3 linked regions of the Homo sapiens genome follow. The protein of the gene in region 1 purifies or fractionates together with the protein of each later gene. This does not show direct contact. Each region holds a gene or a part of one and is shown in the gene's direction. Other genes may lie near its edges. The genes, in order: CDKL3, ESD and DSC3.

Region 1 (3,408 bases):
TCACACCTGTAATCCCAGCACTTTGGGAGGCTGAAGAGGGTGGATCACCTGAAGTCAGGAGTTCAAGACCAGCCTGGCCAATGTGGTGAAACCCCTTCTCTACTAAAAATACAAAAATTAGCTGGGTGTGGTGGCTCATGCCTGTAATCCCAGCTACTCGGGAGGCTGAGGCAGGAGAATTGCTTGAACCTGGGAGGCGGAGGTTGCGCAGTGAGCTGAGATCAAACCATTGCACTCCAGCCTAGACAACAAGAGTGAAACTCCGTTTAAAAAAAAAAAAATCCATTAATAGTCATCTTTCGGTTCATTATAAAAAGTAATAAGGTGGCTTTAAACTTTTAAATTTGGGTGACATACTCATGTCACAGCACGTTGCACAGCATACCATTTGCACATTTTTTCAATCATTGGGTGAGTTAGGGCTCCTGAGGTAGGCAGACTATTAATGTGCCTCATGTGTTTATCCCATTGTCCTGTGAGAGTCCCCAGGAACTAAAATTACTTTCTAGTCCAGGAAAAAAGGAACTCTGCAGGAAAAAAGACCCTTCTGTGATTTTTAGGATAAATAATAAATTAAGGAGGGAAAACATCTTCTTGTTCATATGATATAGAACTCCAGAAAAAATGAAGTCATCAGTGTTGATTATAGTTTATTTGTACTGCTTATTCAAATGCAGCTCTGACAAGTGACTGAAATTGCATAAAAGGCTAGTACAACTGGTTTTAATAAATGTCAGAATTAAGAACATTTCTTAAATTTTGAGCCTGTAGTTTATTTTAGAGCATGAAAGAATATGACATATTTTTAAAAACATAAGATAGGGAATTGCTAGTTATTTTTTCTATTCTTGGCTCTGTATTGACTTGGTTTTCGAATTATACAATCAGATCCAAGCACTTCTCAGGTTTACTTTATTTTTTATTATTTATTTATTTATTTATTGAGACAGAGTCTCACTCTGCCACTTAGGCTGGAGTACAGTGGTGTGATCTTAGCTCACTGCAACCTCCACCTCCTGGGTTCAAGCAATTTTCCTGTCTCAGCCTCCTGAGTAGCTGGGATTACAGGTGCCTGCCACCATGCCTGGCTAATTTTTGTATTTTGAGTAGAGACGGGGTTTCACCATGTTGTCCAGGCTGGTCTCGAACTCCTGACCTCAGGTAATCTGCCTGCCTTGGCCTCCCAAAGTGCTGGGATTACAGGTGTGAGCCACCACGCCCTGCCAGGTTTACTTTTTAAACTCTTTCAGCTATCTCAAATGTGCGTGCATGCATTGAATAGGTTCTATAACCAGAGAGAGACTAAATTACTGGGAATGAGTGAGTTAGGCAAGAGAGAAAAGAGTCCATACAAAGGCCACCTTTTGTTTTGTTGGATGATAATGATAAGGAATACATTGCTAAATAGTTTCCCTGTACCTTATGAAACAACCCATAGGGGCAAAGTACAAGTATTTATCTCTGGCTGTATTTCCTTAGCCAAAGACTCACCATGTCCTCAATTAAAGACCTGTTTCTATTTACTTTTTAGAATACAGGAAATGCACAAACTGAAAGGAAGAAGAACTTGCCAGATGTAGAGTAGAAAATGCAGCAGCTGAAAATTCAGGGAATCCCAGAATCACTGTATGGTTTTTTAAAAATCCTTTTTATTAATGTTACATACACAAAAATGCTAACTAGATAATTTTACAGGTATATCGTAAATCCTGTTAGTTATATGTACATTCACCTAAATTTGTTTTTAAATTTATTAATCTTTAAATTATTCATGTTTTCTTAATTTGAACATGAATTTATAAAAACTACCTGACTGGTACATCCTAATAAAATTGCAGCTTACATTTAGTCATATAATTTTATTTGATCACCTATTATTTCAATCATACTTGATGAGTGGTCATTCTTAGCATTGGTTTAGGGCTTTATAATTACAGAAGGAAAAGTTTCTAAATATGTGATAAAGTAAGATCCTGATGTCTGGGAACACCAAACATTTCTGAGCAAACAAATATACTTGATAACCATGTAACATGGGTTTGGCTTTACACTGAACTTTCTGGAGCAGCATTTAAACATATCATGAAGATTGTTTAAAAGGATGGAAATTGGTCGGGCATGGTGGCTCACGCCTGTAATCCCAGCACTTTGGGTGGCCGAGGCAGGTGGATCATGAGGCCAGGAGTTCGAGACCAGTCTGGCCAGCATGGTGAAACCCCATCTCTACTAAAAATGCAAAAAATTAGCCGGACATTGTGGCGTGCACCTGTAATCCCAGCTACTCAGAGGTGGAGGCAGGAGAATTGCTTGAACCCGGGAGGCGGAGGTTGTAGTGAGCCGAGATCACGCCACTGCACTCCAGCCTGAGCACAGAGCGAGACTCCATCCCGCTGCCCCCCGCAAAAAAAAAGATGGAAGTTGAGCAAGGCATTGAAGCAAATCTTTTGGCTTGACTAGCATGTTTATAATTTAGTAATTTACATGTAATTTAGCATTAATAAAGTCAGAGTTTTGGTAGCATATATTTACATTCCAGTCCCTGATTCTTACTAGCTTGGTTTCTAATTTTAGGGTGGAGATGGCCATTGCGAGGGGAAGAATTTGAAGAGAAACAGGTTTTTTTTCTGGTAGTGTCTTTTCTTTTACATAGTCCAAAAAATACAAGATGACAACTCTTCCCGTTTTATTTATCTACAATAGAAGTGTGATGTGAGTTGTTGTTAAGACAGCCATCCATGTGCATGAGCATCATCCAGCTTTTTTTGTTAGCAAAACATTTACTGTTTTCTTTTCCCTTTTAAGACTCTGTTGATGTGATAATTTGATTTGGAATTATAAAGTCATCTCTTCTCTGCCTACTTCTTTTTTTTGCCATGATTACTGAGTGGATAACACAAGCCGTGACATGATACAAACTGTACTTATACTTAATGATCTCTGCCTTCTTGTAGCCACATAACTTCGAGTCAGTTATCTCCTATAACACACAGGCCTCTTTAAATGAGTTCTTAATAAAATATTTGAGCCGTTGTTTTAAAAGCTATTCATGGCTGGGTGCAATGGCTCATGCCTGTAATCCCAACACTTTGGGAGGCTGAGGCAGGCGGATCACTTGAGGTCAGGAGTTCGAAACCAGCCTGACCAACACGGTGAAACACCATCTCTACTAAAAATGCAAAAATTAGCTGGGTGTGGTGGTGCACAGCTGTAATCCCAGCTACTCAGGAGGCTGAGACAGGAGAATCGCTTGAATCCGGGAGGCCAAGGTTGCAGAGAGCCAAGATCATGCCATTGCACTCCAGCCTGGGAGATAAGAGTGAGGCTCTGTCTCAAAACACACACACACACACACACACACACACACACACACACACACACACACACACACACAAACTATTCATGGTTGGG
Region 2 (3,660 bases), on another chromosome or scaffold:
ACAATTTATTTAAAGCCATAGTAATTGGAGGCACCAGGGACCCCTGAAAATAAGGATAAAAGTTGAGCTTAGAAAAAAGATTAATTGAAAGTCTGTTTTTAAAAGGAGATAGATCTGAGAGTGTCCCAGCTTTATGGACTGCCTCTTCCTAACTCTGGGAAAGATTGGAGGTAAGTTCTCTAGAGAAAGTAAACTGTTTGTACTGGGGAATACCAGACACAATTAGTGGGATTGTGATACTGCAAATAGATTAAGCAAAAGTTTGCACACTGAGTTTCTTCCACTAGCTTTCAAAATTTGGGGACTTAGTCTTATATCCTTTAGAAGAATTTCTTTGTGGGGAGTTTGAGTAGCCCAAAGGAAGAGATTTCAAGATACTGAGATTTGCCAACAAAGTAACCTAACCAGACCTTACAGTAAAGCAATGATTGACAACTCCACCTGTAGGCACAGTGCTTTCAACTAGATTTTTAGTGTTTCTCTCTTAAATAGGAGTGGACAGCTAAAGATCACTAGACATTTGTATAAAGTCTTTAATTTGATATGAACTTCTCTTCATATCAAAGTATAAAAGATATTGACCTCTTGACTTCATAGGATGCTATTAAAAAATATTCAAGTACATGGCCAGGTGTGGTGACTTACACCTGTAATACTAACACTTTGGGAGGCCAAGGCAGGCAGATCACCTGAGGTCAGGAGTTCGAGACCAACCTGGCCAACATGGTGAAACCCTGTCTCTACTGAAAAAAAAAAAATATATATATATATATATGTACAAAAATTAGCCAGGCATGGTTATGCACACCTGTAGTCCCAGCTACTTAGGAGGCTGAGGCAGGAGAATTGCTTGAACCTGGGAGGCAGAGGTTGCAGTGAGCTAAGATGGCACCACTGCACTCCAGCCTGGGCGACAAGAGCGAAACTCTGTCTCAAAAAACATAAAATAAAAAAATCCTCAACTACAAAAAAGCCTAGACATTTAAATTTTGGTAGTAGAAATGACAAAACTCAATAGAATGGTTAGTTGAACATTCTAGAAAGTAAAATAAGATAAAAGTGATAAATCAGAAAGGACAACAAAATTAGAGGACTAGTCCAAAAATCCAACATTAAAAGTTAGGAATTTTGGAAAATAGAACAGAAATAGAGGTATAGATATAAATAATAAATAATTCAAGAATTCCCAGAACTGAAGTTGCCAGATTTAAAAAGTTGTCTAGTACAATGGATGAAAATAGATCTACACCAACAACATAGTAAAGTTTTAGAGTGTTGGGAACAAAGAAAATTCTCAAACATTGAGAAAAAGAGAAAGTAGATTAAGAATTTTTCAAAGGTTTAGGTCAGCTCAACGGTATTACTAGAACTAAGAAGGCAGAGCAGCAGTGCTTTCAGGATTCTGAAGGATAACTTCTATGTCCAACCATATTGTCAATTAAGTGAGAGTAGAATGAAGATGTTTTCATATATGAAAGGTCTCAAAGTGTATTTCCCATGCACTTTTGGAAGCAACTGAATAATATGCTTCACCAAAATGAGGGACTAAAGCAAGATAGCTGAAGGCATAAGATCCAAGAAAACAGATCAGAGGAGAAAGAGTTTCCAGATGAGTGGAGCTATATTAAGGCAGCAACTAGAAAGCAGCAGGTCAAAAGTTGGAGATGGTAGCCAGTAATTACATGTAGCCATTTACATCAAATTAGCTAATTAATAAAACTTCAGTCCCACTAGCCACATTTCAGGTGCTCAGTAGTCACATGACCAGAAGCTGTTGTACTGGACAATACATAGATAGAACATTTTTATTAATATCACTGTAGAAAGTTCTGTTCGGCAGTACTGGTCTGAAGGGGTTTTTTTAATGTAGATGAAATTGATAGAACTGACTGTATTAGAGAGGAAATTTATGAAACCAATCAGGGTTGGGGGAGTTTGGTATTGAATTAGTGATACATGCAGAGTGACCACACAAATATCTGTGCATGAGATTGTATTCTTTTGGTAATTGAGCAACATCTTAATGACATGATAGGGACAGAGGTTTCAGAAGATTGCTTGATAATCCTGTTGTGTTTTTTTTTTTTTTTTTTGCTTTTACATAAGTGTTAATCATACCACTGTTGAACATACTTTAGACCTGATTTATTCCACAACTGCTTGAGAAAGGTCCTCTTTTAAAAATTTTGTTGTAATAACAAAACAACATGAAATATACCCTCTTAACAAATGTTTAAGTGTGCAAGAAAGGTCTTAAGGCACCAACCATTCTGTAACAAGATTATGTTCTCTTGATTTTACGTATTGATAACAGATATCCCTGCATTGAATATGGATTTGATATAGTATTATAATGAAAGTAAATGTTTCAGCTTCCCTAACAAAAGTTGAAAACCTAAAAACAAATGTCAGAAATTTTTTGTGCCGTCAGTCATCAACAAGAAAAGTTGCTTAGAATAATGTGGAAAAAGAAAATCACCAATATGCAGAGAATGGAAAGGAGCATACAGAAAACTTCCCATGATGGGGCCTTTGTGGGAGTCTATTCCTAACAAGGAAGGATAACCAGTAACAAAAAGGAGAGAATTACCAGCTCAATGAAAACAAAAAAAACTGAAAGAAAAAGGAAAGTAATGCTAATATACTACATGGCTTATCTCTGAATAGCATTTATAACTTCTTAATATTGATTAACCAAAATTATATGTGATACGATAGTGGAAGGAGAAATGTAGGGGCATGCAGAGAGCAAAGACAGGGAGCTGAAAGTTAACTAAAATCCTTCTATAATGGGAAGCCAATAGATAATAACTAAAAACTGAAAAATCTAGAAGCAGTAATAAAGTCATATTATGTAGATAGGGACATAAATACCAGAAAAATCAACTAAAAGAGGTAAATTAATTATCTCTGGAATATGGAAAATGAGAAGGTTGGAGAGTTTTTTATATATTTAGTTTTTATATATATTTAGTTTTTCATAACAGTGTGTGGAAGTATTTACTATTTAGTTACAGTTTACTTTAAACTATGTACTTACATAACTTTGATAAAAAGATAGGTGTTTACTCTGAAGTAGTAAGAGTTTACTTCCATTTATATGATGTTTTAAATAAACCCATGAGAGATCACTGTTGCATGAATTACTGTTTACTGGAAAAACGCCTGTGGTTTTAATCAAAATTGTCTTTTCTAGTTGCATTAATAGTGATTGTGATAAAATATTAGTGATGAAAGAGCGAATTAAGGATGTGTTGCATTTTAGTGCCTATGAACAAATATGTAAGATCTCAAGAATTCATTTTTTTATGAAAGATGATTTGTCATTTCATACATTTCTTTAGAAACAAAAACTATTTTTTAATAAATGCCACAATGAATTACATTTATTTTTTCACTTATTTTGCCCAGAATGACAGTGCCATGCAAAGTATAGGCTCAGGTTGGTTTAGATCAGTATGCTAAATTGACCACATTCTTTCTTTAAGGGACAAGTATATTCGTTAAATGTTAGTGGAACCACTTATTTTGAACATTAAATAACTTATTTTGGACCTTTAGTATATATCTTACTTTTTATATAGTGCATAATTATTTTGTTTCTGTATTGATTAATGAGGGGCATTAATATTTTGTTGTTGTTTTTGTTAAAACTAGTGT
Region 3 (3,660 bases), on another chromosome or scaffold:
AAAAAAGTCAAAATTATAGTATACGTATATTTAGATTGATGCATTATCAGCTACCTTATTAAAAGGAGATTGTTGATGTTCCTGTTGAGATACAGCTAGATACGGAAGCACGTTCTGAATAAATAAATGTAAGCTCATGCACATTTTTGGATCCTGTTGTAATTCCCATGGCAGTCCTGTACCATATATGGTATCTGTGGTGACCTGTAGTTAATCATACTTTCCGCTGAAAGTATGATAGCTGGAATTCCCATCTTACAATGAGTTTGGGTGGAAACAAATTTATTAGACTCATTTAAGTACTGAGAATGTAGAGCAGTAAATCTTGCAATTTACCTTTGAAGTGGTAAGAATTTGAAAGGTAATATTTCCATTCTGCAGAAGACTTATGGCCACAGGAGAAATGAAGAGTTTAAAATTCTGTAATTATTGTGTTTAATCCAGAAGATCCTCTTCACATTTAAGACATTCCATAAATTTCCATTCTTTTTCTTCTCTACTGAAGTAGGGTGTCATTTTAGAAAGCCTACTTTGTGTATTTACTATAAAATTAAACAACAGCATGAAAGTGAAACAACTGCAGATAACACCTTTAATTTTCGTTCTCTCTTTGGCATTAAATTTTTCCATCAGGATTTAATGATTCGTCTGATAAGGTTTCTATCATGCAATTAATACAATTTGCTTAGTACTATAAAATGCAACAAAACTATTTTGCTTAGGCTGCAGTAGGTAATACTTTATATTATCATCTTTAAAGTTTGTTATATTTTAATTTAAAATATGGGCATTCTTGTATACAGAAGTTATTTTTATTATAAAATATCTTTAAAGGTCATTAGTTCATCATTAATATACTAGTGTCTTTACATTTTTTACTTTATTTTGTTTTCAATAAGGCATCCAAACCTCACAAAAACATAATATCAAATGACTTCATAGTTTCAAGAAACATACTATAACTGAAGTCTATTGAATATTATCCCTTTCAAAAGTTGTATTAATGAATTAACTGTACATTCTTTCTAATAATATCCTATGCAGCAAAGAAAATGAATGAGCTACTGCTATATAGTTAGGAACTTTGAAAATATTAGTAATGTTCCATTTCTTAACCTTGAACGTGAATACCCTAATGTTCATTTTATTATTTATTAAAACACACACATGCTATATGTAATCTTTGGTATTTATAATATATTTTATGAAGAACATTTTTTAAAAAGGAAAGAAATGAGCAATAGAGGGTATCAACTAAACTAAACCTCTTGAGTATAGACAAACCCTACTCTGAGCAAGTCAAAAATAGAAAAGGCATACATAAAACAATATTAGGAATGAAAAGGAAGTATAGTTTTGGAGAGAACAGATGTTAAAAAGTAAAATAACATGAATAGATAATTCCAATTAACTTGAAAATACAGACAAAACAGACAACTTCTTACAAAATACACATAACCAACATTGACTTGAGGAGGTATACAAAATCTAAATAGACCTGTAACCATTAAATAAATTGAATTAGAAGTTAGAGAGCTCCACACACACTTCTTTAGATCCACCAGGCCCAGGTTTGTGATAAGTTATTTCTTTCAGAATTATATGGAACAATGTACTTTATGTAAATTGTTTCAAAGAACAAAAAAATACAGAACTCTTCTTAACTCATTTTATGAGGATCGTATGAAGTTGAAAAATAGTAGCCTGATCTCACTTACAGACAAATATGTGAAATGAGATAAATTGAAAACAAACCAATATATTTGTAAGATATAAATATTTTATGTTCTTGTAAGGCTTATCAGGAAAGGAAACATGGGTTCACATAAGAACATCTATTATTGTATTTTAACATAGTATCAACAGAGAAAATGTATCAACAGAGAAAAACTGATTATTTCAAGAAAGTGGAAACATTTCATTTCAAAAGAATTCATAGAATTCATAGCACACTAAGAATGTAGAGAATGAACTTTTTTTTTTTTTGAGATGGAGTTTTGCTCTGTTCCCCAGGCTGGAGTGCAGGCTGGAGGTTGGCTCACTGCAACCTCCGCCTCCCAGATTCAAGTGATTCTCCTGCCTCAGCTTCCTGAGTAGCTGGGATTACAGGCTTGTGCCACCACAGCCGGCTAATTTTTGTATTTTTAGTAGAGACGAGGTTTCACCATGTTGGTCCGGCATGTCTCGAACTCCTGACCTCATGATCCGCCTGCCTCGGCCTCCCAGAGTGCTGGGATTACAGGCATGAGCCACTGCGCCTGGCCAAGAATGAACTTTCTTAATGTAATGAAACATATCTAACAAAAATGAATGAATGAATGAATGTTACAAGGAAAAAAGAAAAAGACTCATAATTAATGGCAAAACTGTAAAAATATTCTCTTTAAGTTAGAAACAAATCCATAATGGTCAGTACAGGTGTTTCTGTTCAGCATTCCAGAAGAGGTCCTAACAAGCATATCAGATAAAAATTAGCAATAATGAAAGACTTGTAGGATTAAAAGAAAAGAAACCTAGTTGTCATTTTGCCAGCGACAGGATTAACTACATAGAAAATCCAACACTATCTATTAACAGATACTAGAACTAATAAAAGTAAGCAAGTTTCATGGATATAAGCTTAATATTTTTAAATGATTTCTATATATTATCAAGGGACAACTCAAAAATATGTTAAGAAGAATCCCATTCATTACAGCAACAAATCAATGTATCTAAGATAAATGTAACAAAAAATGTGAAAGACCTTTTTAGCAAAAATTGCAAAGCTTTATTGAAAAACAAACATAATTCGGCCGAGTGCGGTGGCTCACGCCTGTAATCCCAGCACTTTGGGAGGCTGAGGCAGACAGATCACGAGGTCAGGAGTTCAAGACCAGCCTGTCCAACATGGTGAAACCCCATCTCTACTAAAAATACAAAAATTAGCTGGGGGTGGTGGCAGGCGCCTGTAATCCCAGCTACTCAGGAGGCTGAGGCAGGAGAATTGCTTGAACCTAGGAGGCAGATGTTTCAGTGAGCTGAGATCGCACCACTGCACTCCAGCCTGGGCCACAGAGCAAGATTCCATCTCAAAAAAAAAAAAGGAAGAAAGAAAGCAAAAAGGAAATATAATTCATAAGTAAGTGAGAATGAATCATGTTCATGGATGGAAAGTCTCAAGAGCCCTAAATGTCAAATCCTCTTTAAATTAATATTTAAAGGAAATGGAATTTCATCAACATCCTAAAATAAATTTTTACAGAACTTGGGGAACTGATCATAAAATTGTTTTGAGAGTCAAAGTCTAAAAAGAGCAAAAATACTACTTTAAAAAAAAAGATTGAGCAATGGGGAACTTTGAGGTTTTTGAGTATCTGGTATACAGAAAATTTTAATAAAGATGTGTCAAATGAAAAAAACAAAATTGAAGCACTCTGTTTATCAGAAGATTTCATAATAAAAGTTAAAAAGCAAACTAAGTAAACCTACAAGAAAAAAATTTAACAAGCACAAACAATAGATAAGTGATTAAAGGAGGAAGAATAGATGATTTACAGAAGATAAATGGCAAATAAACACAAGAAAATACAGTCAATCTCACAACAAATAAATAAAATGCAAATTAAAACAGCCATTAGGTTGGCAACATGGAAAAAGTCATAAAATTATTTGTAAGGG

The links.
Region 2: the proteins of CDKL3 (region 1) and ESD purify together in Homo sapiens (affinity purification with mass spectrometry; one large-scale study listed by BioGRID and IntAct). This does not show direct contact.
Region 3: the proteins of CDKL3 (region 1) and DSC3 purify together in Homo sapiens (affinity purification with mass spectrometry; one large-scale study listed by BioGRID and IntAct). This does not show direct contact.

Annotation. Positions count from the first base shown.
Region 1 is NC_000005.10:134,297,874-134,301,281, reverse strand, and holds the end of CDKL3 (cyclin-dependent kinase-like 3), read left to right. Parts: intron 1-1,531; coding exon of another isoform or gene 1,532-1,585; exon of another isoform or gene 1,586-1,857; intron 1,858-2,571; coding exon 2,572-2,631; 3' UTR 2,632-2,858; downstream 2,859-3,408.
Region 2 is NC_000013.11:46,787,107-46,790,766, reverse strand, and holds part of ESD (S-formylglutathione hydrolase), read left to right. Parts: intron 1-3,657; coding exon 3,658-3,660.
Region 3 is NC_000018.10:31,036,224-31,039,883, reverse strand, and holds part of DSC3 (desmocollin-3 isoform Dsc3a preproprotein), read left to right. Parts: intron 1-3,660. UniProt on the Homo sapiens protein: A component of desmosome cell-cell junctions which are required for positive regulation of cellular adhesion. Required for cell-cell adhesion in the epidermis, as a result required for the maintenance of the dermal cohesion and the dermal barrier function.